Linked DNA regions of Homo sapiens. The protein of the gene in region 1 purifies or fractionates together with the protein of each later gene. This does not show direct contact. Each region holds a gene or a part of one and is shown on either strand. Other genes may lie near its edges.

Region 1 (7,073 bases):
ACACCGTGGAACAGGCCTCTCAGCAACAGGAAGAAACCACTCCTGGCCCCTGCAGCAGCCCTGAGAACCATCCGGGGAACGATGGCGAATAGAAAAAGCCAATCCCCGGCCACACACTGCAAGATTCCATTTCTACGACTCGCTTCAACTGACGACATTACGGAGATGGAGAGCAGACTGGTGGCTCCCAGGAGTTAAGGAAGGGTTCATGGCAGAAGCAAGGTAGGCTTCGCTGAAACGGGCACCGACACAGGGCTCCTCTGAGTGATGACGGAAACCTCTGGCATGGCGGCCGCGTCGGCCAATCCGCTGGCTGTGCTACTGTCCTCGTTCTGCACAAAGCTACCACGGGGAAAACTGGGTGAAGAGTGCACAGGATCTGTGTATTATTTCTCACAACTGTATGTGAATTTACAATGGTCACAATAGTTTAATTTACAAAAAGATCCTGAGATGCCAAACGCCACGCCCGAAGGTGCTGAGAGAGCAGAGGCCACATTCTCCCTGGTCTGACTCCCCGAGCACCTGCCCCGTCCACTCCACCACCTCCTGGAGCAGAGGCCTAGAGGGAGGTGAAGTGTCACACAGCCCACCCTCTCCTACTGCAGATAGGGAAGCCCAGGAGGAAAATCGAGGGAAAGCCTGGGCAGCAAAGGTGGCCGGTTCACAGCACAAGCTGCCTGGCTACGTGCTGGTGTGGCATCCCTCGTGCTGCTCAACCGAGACTTCCAGTTCTCCTCCCTCGGGGAGTGTGGGGCACTTCCTGGCCTCTTGTGGTTGCAGCCGTGTGGTTCCTCCTGGCCAATGAACTGTGAATCCCCAATGAACACACACCTTTGTTGCTTCAGGCTACTAAAACCTGAGGGATGTTCATTACGAAAGCAAAACCATACAGGTTACATTCTCCACCCGTCCAATCACAGCTCTGCCCACGCTGGCTGCCCGTCTTCACTCCTTGCTGGGCTGGGAGGCCCTCCTGCCCTGGCTAAGGCAGAAGCCTGCAGGCTGCCCGTGGGCCCCACGCTTATGCCTGCGGCCTCCAGTGGCCTCCATACCCTCTCACACCGGTTAAGGTGTCAAGATAACAGCTTTGGGGGCAGATACGCAGAAAGACGGGAGGTGCTCTGCCCATCGGACCACCCTGCCAGACTGAAGGAACCAGGGTGTGGGCACCCCACAGCAGCAGGGCGGGTGGACCGGACAGCTCGGACCTCTTACTCCCCATCTGTAAACTGGGGAGTGAAAGCAGTAGCTACAGAATCTTTTCTCCAAACACAACCGTACTCAGAAAACACCAAGTGAAACAGATCACATCAGAGCTGCTCTGGGTAAAGGGAGGGACGATGATGGCAGCAGGTCTAAGACTAGAACCTCCGGGGTTCCAAGGCACAAATCGACTCACCTGGAAGTGCCCCACAGTCCTGGGCCCATTTCCCATGGCGCAGTGTGGGAATGACAGGCCACAGTTTCTACGGCCAGACCCCACGGGATTCCTCCCACAGCTCTGCTCTGTGCTTGCTTCATGGTCTTGGGAAACTACATCACCTCTCAGGTTGGACAGAAAACAACTCCCACCTCCCTGCTCCAACCAGGGGCAGCAGGGCCACCATGCCATTGAGCTCTAAGCTGTGGGATGGTCCGCAGGGTCACCGCAGCACTCCCCACGCCCCAGCTGCCAGCGTGCCTGTCCACGTCCCTGTGTGCCCTGCCAAGTCTCCTCTGCTGGCAGCATCCCAGGCTGTGCCTGCGCCCTGGGGACAGTGAGGTGCGCTAAGGGTGCAGGGCCCTAGAAGCCAAGTCTCCATAAGGAGAGATGCAAGCAGGTGACCCGGTCTCCCTTCCGTAAGATAGGGTGATGGTGTCACCTTGGAGGCTGCTCTGGGAATTCAGGACCTGCCCGCCTGCAGGAAGCATCGCTGTTCCTGTCCCCCACCACTTCCTGCTCCTGGCAGGGAAGGGGGGCGGCCCCGTGCATCAAAGGCTGAGCGGCCTAAAGGTGAGGCTCAGCTCCTCCCATGGTTATCTTGTGCCCACTGTGGGCATTTTCCTGTGCTGGGACCACAGAGACAGAAAAGACAAGGTCCTGGCCCTGGAGGAGGAAAGCTAATGACTGCAATGCAACAAGGCCCAAGCCACGCAGAGCCACTTCCCAAAATCTGCAGCCCTCTCTCTACCTTGCCCTCCCCGGGAGGCACCAGGCCCTCAGGATGAGGGGATGGGGCTGACTCCTGACGGCGTCCCCCAGCGGAGACTTCAACAGCCCAGGAGGTCACCAGTCGGGGCCACTCCAGGCAGAGGGGCGGCCCCAGCAAAGACACGGGGGGCAGGCTGCAGGCAGCCTGCGGAGTCAGCGCAGCAGGTTTCCCAGGGGCTGGAAAGCCCATGGAGCACCGCAGATGCCAAGTGACAGTGAGGCTGGAGCTGCCAGGAAGATCTGTCGCCAGGGGGCGGCACCGCCGGATCTACCCCTCAGCAAGATGCAGAATTAAGGGGCCCAGGCTGGAGGCTGTGACCGGCGAAAACGCCCAGGTACCACGAAGCAGCAGAAGCAACGGTTCTCCCCACTTGCAATTCCGCCTCCTGCGCCCACTCCCAGCACACCACGCTCATCAGCACCTTCCCACAAGTGAGCAGCAGCGGGAAGGAGGTCAGACTCCCAGCAAGGAATCCAGCTCCTCATTAGCACCGAGGGCAGCCAGCCCAGGAAGGAGGCTGCTGTGTTGTGTTGCTTCTTTCTAATGTTGGGAGAGACTGATTCTGGGCTCTGGTTTAAAAACATGTCCCCTTCCAAATACTTCGCTAGAATGGATCATGGGTCCAGATGGAGGGCAGCCAAGGTGGCCCGCTCTGTCCAGGGCAGACGCCTGTGGCTCTCTTTGTCCGTGGCTCTGTCCAGGGCAGACGCCTGTGGCTCTCTTTGTCCGTGGCTCTCTGACAGGACCCTTGATGACCCATGCCCTCAGAACACTGGCCCTCATCTTCCCCAGACCATGCCACACTCAACTCCTTCACCATCACCCCTCCAATGCCCAGCTTCCCATTGGTACAGGTTCAGTGTGCACCCCTCAGATGACACCCAGGGTCAGGCTCAGGCGATAAACACAAACACACACACACACACGCACACACCCGCGCACCTGGCCCCAAAGCCCTGGAAACGCTTGACTCAGCTAGACACCATCCACAGGCAACCACAGCCTCTGGGGGCTCACACCACCCCGACCTCCTAGCCTCAAGCCTTATGGGAACAAGAATCTTGAGCTCCGCCCACCTCCCCTCTCCATCAGAAATCTCAACCTCCATACCTGGATTCCTTCAAGCCTGTGAACCCCTGCCACACTCTGCTCTGGAACATCATCTCAAGATGGAAGGGAGGGACAGGATTAGGTCTTTATTAGTGCAGTAATTGCCATTATTAATAACATCCTCTAACTCAACAGGGAATTTTTGTTTGTAAAGCTGCTTCCAGCCTGGTCCCCCTGGAGAGCAGCAGGGCAGGATCGCCAGGTGGGCCGGGCAGCAGAACGGTGAGCAATGCCTCTGATTTCTGCCTCTGATCAGAATCCTGGTGAGAACACCAGGGCTCAAGTCATGGCTGGGCATTTACCACCCCCGTGACTTCAGGTAAGTTTCCCAAGGCTGGGAAGTTTCCTGATCTGAGGAGCAGGAAGAGCCTAGCAGGTGCCTGACAGATGCCCTGTGGTCAAAAGCAGGAGGTGTTGTTATAATCAGAATCCAAGACAGCCTGACGCTCAGGTCTACTGTGCGAGCTGGCCGTGCCATGGCTGACCAGGTAGAGCAAGCTCTGTGATGTGTGTAGCAGTGGCGAGGCAGCCCGAGGGTCTCACAGGAGAGAGGCAGCTCCACCTGCCCTGGGGCTGCACTCCCTGACCTTCCACAGCCCCTATGTGTGGCAGTGGCGAGGCAGCCCGAGGGTCTCACAGGAGAGAGGCAGCTCCGCCTGCCCTGGGGCTGCACTCCCTGACCTTCCACAGCCCCTATGTGTGGCAGTGGCGAGGCAGCCCGAGGGTCTCACAGGAGAGAGGCAGCTCCGCCTGCCCTGGGGCTGCACTCCCTGACCTTCCACAGCCCCTCTGTGTGGCAGTGGCGAGGCAGCCCGAGGGTCTCACAGGAGAGAGGCAGCTCCGCCTACCCTGGGGCTGCACTCCCTGACCTTCCACAGCCCCTCTGTGCACCTTGGGAATTCTTCCCTACACCCCTCAGGTGATGTCCCCCAAGACGCCCGGAGATTCCAAGTCTCTGGGACAGACACAATGCTGCCCACCTCCCAGGAGGCTGCAGGATCAGACTAATGACATGGAAAGGCAGGGCTCCTGGAGGGGCCAAGTGACATGGCCAGGGTCCCACGGCTAAGATGTGGCAATGCTGTGTCCCTACCTGGATGTTACGTAAGTCAGGGCTGGGTTGTAGCCCTCCCCACAGGGCAAATCAGAGGGAGAAAACGAGGCAATCTTCCACTGTGGAAGAAAACAACAGTTGATCTGGCCACAGCACTGGGCCAGAGGCTCCCAGGCCAGCGTGAGTGCCTGGCTCTGCTCACTGGCTTCCATGCTGGGGAGGGCTCGAGCCTGCAGCCTGAAGCCCAGGGTTGCCAGGACAATGAGCAGCAGCTGCTGCCAGTCCACTCAGCTGCGTGGCTAGCCCACCAATCCATCGAGGGGGCCCACAGCGCAGCCACCACAAGGCACCCAGCACACAGTGCCAAGGCATGGAGCCTGGCCCCTGCAGGCTCCAGACACAGGCCCTCGGTGTGGCACTGCTCCACCCAGCCCTGTCTCCAGACCTCTTCGGCAAACCTCAGCCTGGGCCCCGGGTTCCCTGCTCAGCACCAACAGCCATCAGAAAAGCCCAGGCCTCACCCTGCCTCCCAAGACCCTCACAGGCTGACCCGAGTCAGACCTGCCTACTAGGAGTCCAGCACTGCTGTGCCTTCCCTTGGGCCTCCCGCTGCCTGGAGTAGCTGCCTCTCCTGCCCTCCCCAGCTAAGGCCACTCAGCTCTCCAGACACAGCTCAGGCCTCACCAGCATCCAGGATTCTTCCCAGGTATCTACCCAGCCCTGCCCAAAACGCACCCCCAAACCCTCCCAAAGCGCACCCCCAGCCCTGCCCAAAACACACCCCTAGCCCTGCCCAAAACATGTCCCCAGCCCTGCCCAAAACACACCCCCAGCCCTGCCCAAAACACACCCCTAGCCCTGCCCAAAACATGCCCCCGGCCCTACCCAAAACACACCTCCAGCCCCAAAATATGCCCCCAAACCCTCCCAAAGCACATCCCCAGCCCTGCCAAAGCACAACCCCAGCAGAGTCAGCTCCCCTCTCCACCTCCTCACTCCACCGCCTCAACCTTGCTCTGTAAGGTGCCCTCTCCACCTCCTCACTCCACCGCCTCAACCTTGCTCTGTAAGGTGCCCTCTCCACCTCCTCACTCCACTGCCTCGACCTTGCTCTGTAAGGTGCACAGCAGTGTCCGGAGCAAGGCCAGGACAGCCTGATCCTGCTTGCCACTGTGTCCATCCCAAGACTCATGCCAGGCATGGCCTTAGCATAGTCTCACAGAACATTACACATCTCAGACAGCAGCCCTGATGGCAGGGGCAGGGGCTGGGGACTTGCCAATGACCCTGTCCAGGCAGGAACACCCAGTAGACTGTCCTGCTTGCCTGCAGTGGCCCCCAAGTGGGTTCACATCCTAACAGGACCTACCCAAGGACAAAAAAGGAAGGGCCCTGTGCAGCACAGTCCGGATTTGAAGCCCACACGGAGCCACCTTCACCCCCATCCCAGACTCAGCAAGCCGCAAGTTGACGAGAGAATCTCATAGCCTGGATAAGGCCAGGCAGGACAGCCACAGCTGGCTTCTGAGGACAGCCCTGGATGGCAAGCAGGACACCCCGAAGCAAGGCCCCTGCAGGAGACACCGCCCAACTGGGCTCCGTAGGTGAGGACACCCCGCCCATAAGGCATCTTCAGAAACCTATTCAAGGCACCTGGCTTGTCATTGTTGGTAGTGCCCTTCTTCTCTGCCAGGGAACTCAGACCAAGAAAACTCTTCCTATGGAAGCTTCCAGATGGCTCCACCATGCAGCACTAACAGGAAGGATAGTGGAATAAGAACAGCACAGGCTCAAGATCAGCTGTGAAACAACCCCTCACGTCTTCAGCAAATCCCCATCGGGCATTCACTGGGCCCCAGGCCCTGGGCCACAGCTGGATGGACGTTCAGAGACGCACAGCTCCCCGCGGGTGGGGTGGCAGACAGGGAGGTGTGGAAAGGTACAGAGTCCACCACTGGCGCTGGGGACCGTGGGGGCAGGAGGAATGATGATCTTCCCCAGCTGCCTCAATGCGCCCAAGAGGGAGAGGATGAGGATGCCCTCAGTACAGAGAGCAGAGCCAAACATAAGCATCCACACTGAACAACTGACTGTCACCTCTGGAGGGACAGCGCCGGCCATGAGCTCTCCAACTCTCTCACTCACTCCTTCTTGCCTTTAGTCTTTTGGTCACCACTGCTCCACACACAGATGCCACAAATGTTTAGACAGGGCTGAGCATCCCAGCAGAAAGCAGAGGAATCTGAGAGGAGGGCTGCTCAGGAGTCTGCTACTATGGACGATGCACAAATCAGACTTTAAAGAACACAATGAATGACAGCTGGACTGGGCCACAAGGTCAAAGTCTACTTGTAGCAAGTAACACCATCCAAACAAACCCAGTAGCCACAGAAACGCCCGTGTGCATTAAAACAAAAAGCCTGGAGCCAGACGCCATGACTCACGCTGGGAATCCCAGCACTCCGGGAGGCTGAGGCCAGAGGATGGCTTAAGGCCAGGAGTTCAAGACCAGCCTGGGCAACTGGGCAACACAGTGAGACACGCCTATCTCAAAAAAAAAAAAAGAGGTGGCTGGGCACGGTGGCTCACACCTGGGATTACAGTGTGTGGCTCAGGCAGGTTGATCACCTGAAGGTCAGGAGCTTGAGTCTAGCCTGGCCAAAAAGAAGAAGTGGCTGGGCACAGTGGCTCACGCCTGTAATCCCAGCACTTTG
Region 2 (7,999 bases), on another chromosome or scaffold:
TTCCTTTTTACCAAGCAGACACATTTTGTTTGACTTAGCTTGGCATTCTTTCAAGTCCAAAGCTGTAACTAGTCACAACAAGTAAATGTAGTGATTGAAAATGGGCGGGGCATGGTGACTCATGTCGTAATCCCAGCACTTTGGGAGGCTGAGACAGGAGGACCCCTTGAGGCTTGGTGTTTAAAACCAGCCTGAGCAACATGGTGTGACACTTGTCTCTATTAAAAAAATTTTTAAAAACAAAACAGTCGTATTAAGTGGAAGGCTAATAAAAGTCTGAATTACAAATACTTTTAAAAGAAATGTAATTTTATTGCTGCTTTCTAAAGACTAGGAGCCTAAGCAAAGTATACCAGGCCTTAGGAGACAATTATGAATCAAAATACATAAATTTTCTCTTAAGATATATTTTAAGTATGTATCCTCTATTAATTGTATTCCTGTTTCTTTGCTGGGAAAACTTTAGAGAGTACAAGTAACTTTCAGTTTTTCCCTTGTCCAAATTATAGTCTTCACATGTATGAAAACCGAAAGACTTTTTTGTGTGCTATTTAAGTAGCTACTTTACATGCAATTCAGCTTTTCAACTAACCAAGCTGTTATTAAAGGAGTTTCTCCCCAGAAACCAATCTTCTACCTGTATTAGGTTCAGTGGTTTGAATTAATAAATGATCATGGAAGGACCTAAGGAAGTTAAATTGAGTTATCTGCTCAGCCATAGTCCAAAGCTACAAGGAAAACAAATTGAATTTAAAAAGAACAAGAAAAACATTTTAAATGTTTTTAAGGTTTTACCCAATGACAAACCTATTTCCCTAAATGTTGTTCCCAAATAGGACTTTAAGGATTATTATTTCAATGCCCTCTCTTTTTTCTTTATGGAAAATTTGGGAAATTGAGAACCAACTAGTTTAAATACCTTGATCAAAGCCATTTAGGCAACACCAGTACCTCATCAGTTTGTGCTTCGGTTTCTCTGTAAGCTGAGGTGATTAGTTCCTGTCCAGAAACGTCACAGAGTGGTTAGGGCCAAATAAAATTCCGAGGGGGGCCAGGCGCAGTGGCTCACGCCTGTAATCCCAGCACTTTGGGAGGCCGAGGCAGGTGGATCACTTGAGGTCAGGAGTTCGAGACCAGCCTGGCCAAACCAACATGGTGAAACCCTGTGTCTACTAAAACTACAAAATTAGCTGGACGTGGTGGTGCACACCTGAAATCCCAGCTACTCAGGAATCTGAGGCAGGAGAATCGCTTGAACCCAGGAGGAAGAGGTTGCGGTGAGCCGAGATCGTGCCACTGCACTCCAGCCTGGGCAACAGAACGAGACTCCGTCAAAAAAAAGAAAAAAAAAATCCAAGGGGGGTTAATACCAGCTACTTGGTAGGCTGAGGCAGGAGAATCGCTTGAACTGGAAGGTGGAGGTTACAATGAGCCGAGATCGCACCACTGCACTCTAGCCTGGGCGACAGAGTGAGATTCCATCTTAATGAATAAGTAAATAAGTAATAAAATTCCTAAGGGGAGGCTTGGTGTGGTGGCTCATGCCTGTAATCCCAGCACTTTTGGAGGCTGAGGCGGGTGGAGCACTTGAGGTCAGGAGTTCAAAACCAGCCTGGCCAACATGGTGAAACCCTGCCTCTACTAAAATAGAAAAATTAGGTGGGCATGGTGGTGAACACCTGTAATCCCAGCTAGTCGAAAGGCTGAGGCAGGAGAATCGCTTGAACCCGGGAGGTGGAGGTTGCAGTGAGCCGAGATTGCAGCACTGCACTCTAGCCTGGGCAACAGAGTGAAACTCTGTCTCGAAATAAAATAAAATTCCAAGGGGGAAGGCATCAGACGTAGTAAAGTGTGAAGCAGCATGTAAATGATTCATTAATGTTTGGGAAGTTTCCTGAAAGACATTTGGTACTTTCCTTAAACCTGTTGATAGGTGGTGGGGTTCCCCTTTGTGCCTCTAAGCAGTTTTTAGGAATTAGCAAGGAGTTCAAAGTAGAATTTGAGAAAGGCTGTTGTAGGATAGCAGGAAGGCAAGATGGGGTGGGAGATCCTGTAATAGCTAAGATCTCTTTGCCTCTAGCATAGTGCTGAAGAAGGAGGGTTTAGGAGTCAGAGCCAGCTCTGAAGCCTGATTTGTTAATTACTAGTTGTAAGACCTCGGACAACTCAATTAACTTCCTGCACCTTTATTTTCTTATCTTTAACATGGATACAATTTAATGCTTTCCTGTGGTTCATCACCTGTGGTTCAGTTGCATGGTCTCCTCTCTACAGTGGCCTTCCCTGACTATAGCATCTGAAGTGACCCCTCCCAGCCCGTTGTATCAAATGGGCTTGCCTTAGTCATAGCACTTATCAGTATCTGAAATGACGTTACTTTTTCTGCTTATAGATTTAGTATGTTTCTCTCTTAACAATATAAGCCCTTTGAGGACAGGTACTTTGTCTGACTGTATTCACTGTGCTGTAAGGGTGCATTGTACAGAAGAATGCTCATAATGCCGGGTGCTGTGGTTCATGCCTATAATCCCAGCACTTTGGGAGGGAGGCTGAGGCAGGAGGATCACTTGAGCCCAGGAGTTCAAGACCAGCCTGGGCAACATAGTGAGATCCACGTCTCTACAAAAAAATGTAAAAATTAGCTGGGCGTGTTGGTGCACACCTGTGGTCCTAGCTACTCCGGAGGATGAGGTGGGAGGATCACTTGAGCCTGGGAGGTCCAGGATGCAGTGAGCTTTGATTATGCCACTGCACTCCAGCCTATGTCACAGGGTGAGACTCTGTCTCACAAAAAAAAAAAAAAGCTGGATAATAATATATATATTTTTAGTTTTTATGGGTACACTGTAGGTGTTTATATTTATGGGGTACATGAGATATTTTGATAACAGGCATGCAATGCATCATAATCACATCAGGGTAAATGGGTGTCCATGACCTCAAGCATTTATCCTTTCTTTGTGTTACAAGCACTCCAATTATACTCCTTTAGTTATTTTAAAATGTACAATACATTGTTGTGGACTGTAGTCACCCTGCTGTGCTCCCAAATACTAGATCTTATTCATTCTAACTCTATTTTTGTACCCACTAACCAGAATGTTCGGTATTTGTTAATGAACATGTTATGACAGGATGTTTTAGAAGAAAATAAAGAAAAAAAGAAATTCCAGCCAAGCATGGTGGCTTGATTTTATTTATTTATTTATTTTGAGATGAAGTCTCCCTCTGTCTCCCAGGCTGGAATGCAGTGGCGTGATCTCCACTCACCGCAACCTCTGCCTTCTGAGTTACATGGCTCACGCCTGTAATCCCAGCACTTTGGGAGACTGAGGTGTATTGCTTGAGGTCAGGAGTTCGAGACCAGCCTGGCCAACACAGTGAAACCGTGTCTCTACTAAAAATACAAAAAATTAGCTGGGCGTAATGGTGGGCGCCTGTAATCCCAGCTACTAGGGAGACTAAGACAAGAAAATCGCTTGAATCTGGGAGGCAGAGGTTGCAGTGAGCCGAGATCGCACCATTGCACGCCAGCCTGGGCAACAAGAGGGAAACTCTGTCTCGAAAAGAAAAAAATTATTTTTTAATTTTAATTTGTTAGTGAACAATTAGGGTTGCTGTGAGAATTGTGCCTGGCACACACAGCCATTTAAAAATCACGATCTTCAGGCAGTGTGTGGTGGCTCACGCCTGTAATCCCAGGACTTTGGGAGGCCGAGGTGGGTGGATCACCTGAGGACAGGGATTCGAGAGCAGCCTGGCCAACATGGTGAAACCCCGTCTCTACTAAAAATATAAAAATTAGCCGGGTGTGGTGATGCGGGCCTGTGATCCCAGCTACTCGGGAGGCTGAAGCAGGAGAATTGCTTGAACTCAGAAGGCAGAGGTTGCAGTGAGTGGAGATCACGCCACTGCATTCCAGCCTGGGAGACAGAGGGAGATTTCATCTCAAAATAAATAAATAAACAAAATCAAGATCATTTAACAAATACATATATTGTACTTACTAAGTTCAAATTTCTGTTCTAAACGTTTTTACAAATGCTGTTAAGTCATTTAGTCCTCTGCATAATGTCGTTTGTTTGTTTGTCTGTTCTTTAAGACGGAGTCTTGCCCTGTCGCCTAGGCTAGAGTGCAGTGGTGTGATCTCGGCTCACTGCAACCGCCACCTCCCGGTTTCCCGTGATTCTCCTGCCTCAGCCTCCTGAGTAGCTGGGATTACAGGTGCGTGCCACCACATCCGGCTAATTTTTTGTATCTTTAGTAGAGACGGGGTTTCACCATGTGCCAGGCTGGTCTTGAACTCCTGACCTCGTGATCCACCCGCCTTGGCCTCCCAAAGTGCTGGGATTACAGGCGTGACCACCGCGCCAGACCCATAATGGCGTTTTATAGATGGGGAAACGGAGTCATAGAGGCTAAACAACTTTCCCAAGACCACACAGTTAGTAAGGGGCAGGACTAGGACTCAAAGCCAAGTTTATGACCAAATTCTGGTGCACTACGTTCTCCTGCTTCTGGAGAAGATAATGATGCTGAAGATTCTACTTTTGGTGTAAAGGAGTAGGAAGGGCACGGGGCACTGCTAGCTTCAGTGGGCCTGAATCTTTGTCTTTCCTTCTGATTTGGAGAAAGTGCAAGAATGGGAAAATGCAATCGAAGTGAAGGAGAGGCCGGCGTATTTTCCTGAAATGCGCGGCCCGCAAGCCCAAACCCGTTTCCCGGGTGTCCAGGCAGCGTTCTGCAGCATCTCCAATGCCCGCCAGCCCGCCGCAGCCCAGCGCCCGGCAGCCGGCGCCTCTCAAACCCCCTCCGGCCAGGAGCCTTCGCCGCTTGGCCGCGCCGCGCCCGGCCTGGGAAAAAAGTTTCCAAACGACGCTGCTCTGCGCTGATTGGCCGAGGCGGACGCGGTACCGTAGAGCAGCAGCCAATGGGAGGCGCCGACCGCAGGCTCCGGGGCGGGGGCGGGGTCCGGAGGGCCGGGGCCGCACCGCCCTTCGCAGCCGCCTCTGCCGCCGCCGCCGCGTTGGCCTCGCCGCCCCTGCTCGGGTAAGTGAGGCGCTGCGCGGGGCTGGGGTCGGGGTGGCTGTCCGGGGACCTCCACCGCGGCTGAAAAGCTCCTCTGCCCCGCCCCAGGATCCCGGGACCCCGGGCCACCGCCTGGCAGGGACCCCTACGCCCCTCGCTTGCGCGTCGCTTCCCGGCCGCCTGGACTCCCCCGGTCCCTGGGCTCCAAAATCCCGCCTCCCTGGAGCCTCCCGTCCTAAAAAGTTAGGCACTGAGTGCCTTGCCACCGGTGCGTTCCTCGCGCTGGCCCCTCGCCCTTGGCAACTTTGTTTCTCTTTCTGCGTTGGTCTCTCTCCCACCCCGTTGCCCTCTTCTCCTTCCGGGACTTCCTGGGTGGTTAAGCCTTGCCGGTCCCCAAACCCCGCTGCCAGGCTCCATCCTCTTTCTCCTCTTCCTTCCTCCCCATACTCCTCTCCTAGATGACCCTCGTTTCTTTTCTCTCTCTCTCCTATTCCTCCATCCTGCCACCCGCTTCTCTGCGACCCCAGACCCCTCGATTGCAGCGTTGCCCCTGCCCTCACACCCACTGTCCCGCCCCTGCAGGCCTCTTTCCAAAAACCCACCCTGCTCCCTCCCTCCGGGAACACGTTTGGGGCAGTCTGCTCTCCGCTTTGCTCCCGTCTCTGCCGCAGGACGGTTCAGGTTTCTTCTGACAGCACTTTGGGGAGGGATTGGGTAAAGGACGAAAATGCTTATTCCGCAGCTTGAGTGATGGCTGGGCTCACTGAGGACCTGAGTCTCTGAGGTCCTGGGAAACCCCGCTGTCACCTTGACACCGCTTTTGGGGAGGCGACTTTATCTTCTCCGAGCCATCTCAGGCTTTCTGCCTCCTGAGGGCCTGAGCTTCCTTGATTGCTTTGTCCGTGGTTACTACCAGGTTGTGCCTCTTAATTTCTACTTTGAGCCTCAGGCCCCTTTTAACTTTCTAAAGAAAAGGCCTTTGCAGCACGACCTAGGCAGGTTCATCATTTTTAGTTTTGTTATAGTGTATTCTAGCATAGGATGGCATTTTAGGACATGGGTCGGGTGTTTTGAAGATTAATTAGATCCCAGCTACTCCTAAAGCCTCTTGTTACCCGACCACCCCAGCCTCCATCACCTCGTTGGTATACAACCCGTTTTTTTTTTTTTTTTTTTGTTTTTGTTTTTGAGACAGAGTCTCACTCTCGCCCAGGTTGGAGTGCAGTGGTGCGATTTTGGCTCACTGCAACCTCCGCTTCCCGGGTTCAAGCGATTCTCCTGCCTCAGCCTCCGGAGTAGCTGGGACTACAGGTGCGTGCCACCACGCCTGGCTAATTTTTTGTATTTTTAGTAGAGATGGGGTTTCACCGTGTTAGCCAGGATGGTCTCGATTTCCTGACCTCGTGATCTGCCCCCTCGGCCTCCCAAAGTGCTGGGATTACAGGCGTGAGCCACCGTGCCGGCCTACAACCCATTTTGAGCCTTTCCTCTTAGTGTGTGTTTTGTGTAGGATTAAATGCAGATGATCTGTGCCGCTGAAGTCTCAGGGGCCTGTGATTCATATATTTTATCCCATGTTGGATAACAGTTTATTAACTTGACTTATTTTTGTTTCCAAAGTGTGTTATTTATTATTTATTTATTTATTTATTTTGAGACGGAGTCTTGTTCTTGTCCAGGCTGGAGTGCAGTGGCATGATCTCGACTCACTGCAACCTCAGTCCTCCGGGTTCAAGTGATTCTTCTGCCTCACCCTCCTGAGTAGCTGGGATTACAGGTGCGTGCCACCATGCCCGGCTAATTCTTAGTAGAGATGGGGTTTCACCATATTGGCCAGGCTGGTCTCAAACTTCTGACCTCGTGATCTGCCCACCTCAGCCTCCCAAAGTGTTGGGATTACAGGCATGAGCCACTGCACCCGACTCTATCATTATTATTATTTTTTATGTAGAGGCAGAATCTTGCTTTGTTGCCCAGGCTGGTCTCAAATTCCTGGGCTCAAGCAGTCCTCCTGCCTTGGCCTCCCACAGTGCTGAGATTACTTGCAGGCATGAGCCACTGCATGCAGCCCAAAGTGTGTTCTTTTGCCTTAGAATGTGAGCCGAGAATTGACACTCCTTTTCCTCACAAGGTAATTTCCTAACATGAGCATTCCTGTGTACAGAAAGTTTGTGCCTGCAGTTAGTACTACACGTGCACCTCGTGCAATGGATGTGGGTGCTTTTTGTCTGCCTCCTTCAGCAGTGCCCAGCACTTAGTAGGTATTCAAGAAATGTTTGAAAAGGGTTGGAGGAGGCAAAACCACAGTAGGAAAAATTCTTTCCCTGTCACTTGGTTCAGTAGAATAAAATTATCCTGGAACAATAGCTATTTTACTTTTTGTCCAAGTTTTTGTTTGTTTGTTTTTTGAGACGGGATCTCACTCTGTCGCCCAAGCTGGAACACAGTGATGCAATCACAGCTCACTGCAGTCTCGACCTCTCAGGCTCAAGCAATCCTCTTGCCTGAGCCTCCCAAGTAGCTGGGACTAAAAGCACATGCCACCATGCTTGGCTAATTTTTAAAATTTTTTGTAGAGATTGGGGTCTCACTATGTTGCCCAGGCTGGTCTCGAACTCCTGGGTTCAAGCGATCCTTCCGCCTCAGCCTCCCAACGTGCCGGGGTGGGAGAGAGCCACCGCGCCTGGCCTAAGCTTTTTAAAATCTCTAAAGCGATCTATGCTTACTGTATATATGTGTATGTAGTTTACCTTAAAGCAAGGTGTCAGGTACAAATCCACAGGGCTTGCTTTACCCCCATTCTGGTGCATCCTCCAGACCCTTTTCTATTCTGTGTACAGAGAGAGGGAAATAAACAAAAATGGGCACCCATTTTTAACATATCCTGAGCTTTCTTCCATATTAGTACTTACAGTTCTTAACAACTGCATCGTTTTCCATTCAGTCCTCTGTTGACATTGAGGTTTCCAGT

The links. The genes of interacting proteins can lie anywhere in the genome.
Region 2: the proteins of TSNARE1 (region 1) and NDE1 purify together in Homo sapiens (affinity purification with mass spectrometry; 3 studies listed by BioGRID and IntAct, with this or other methods). This does not show direct contact.

Annotation. Positions count from the first base shown.
Region 1 is NC_000008.11:142,393,130-142,400,202, forward strand, and holds part of TSNARE1 (t-SNARE domain-containing protein 1), read right to left. Parts: intron 1-7,073.
Region 2 is NC_000016.10:15,645,246-15,653,244, forward strand, and holds the start of NDE1 (nuclear distribution protein nudE homolog 1), read left to right. Parts: upstream 1-4,999; 5' UTR 5,000-5,049; intron 5,050-6,770; exon of another isoform or gene 6,771-6,805; intron 6,806-7,999. UniProt on the Homo sapiens protein: Required for centrosome duplication and formation and function of the mitotic spindle. Essential for the development of the cerebral cortex.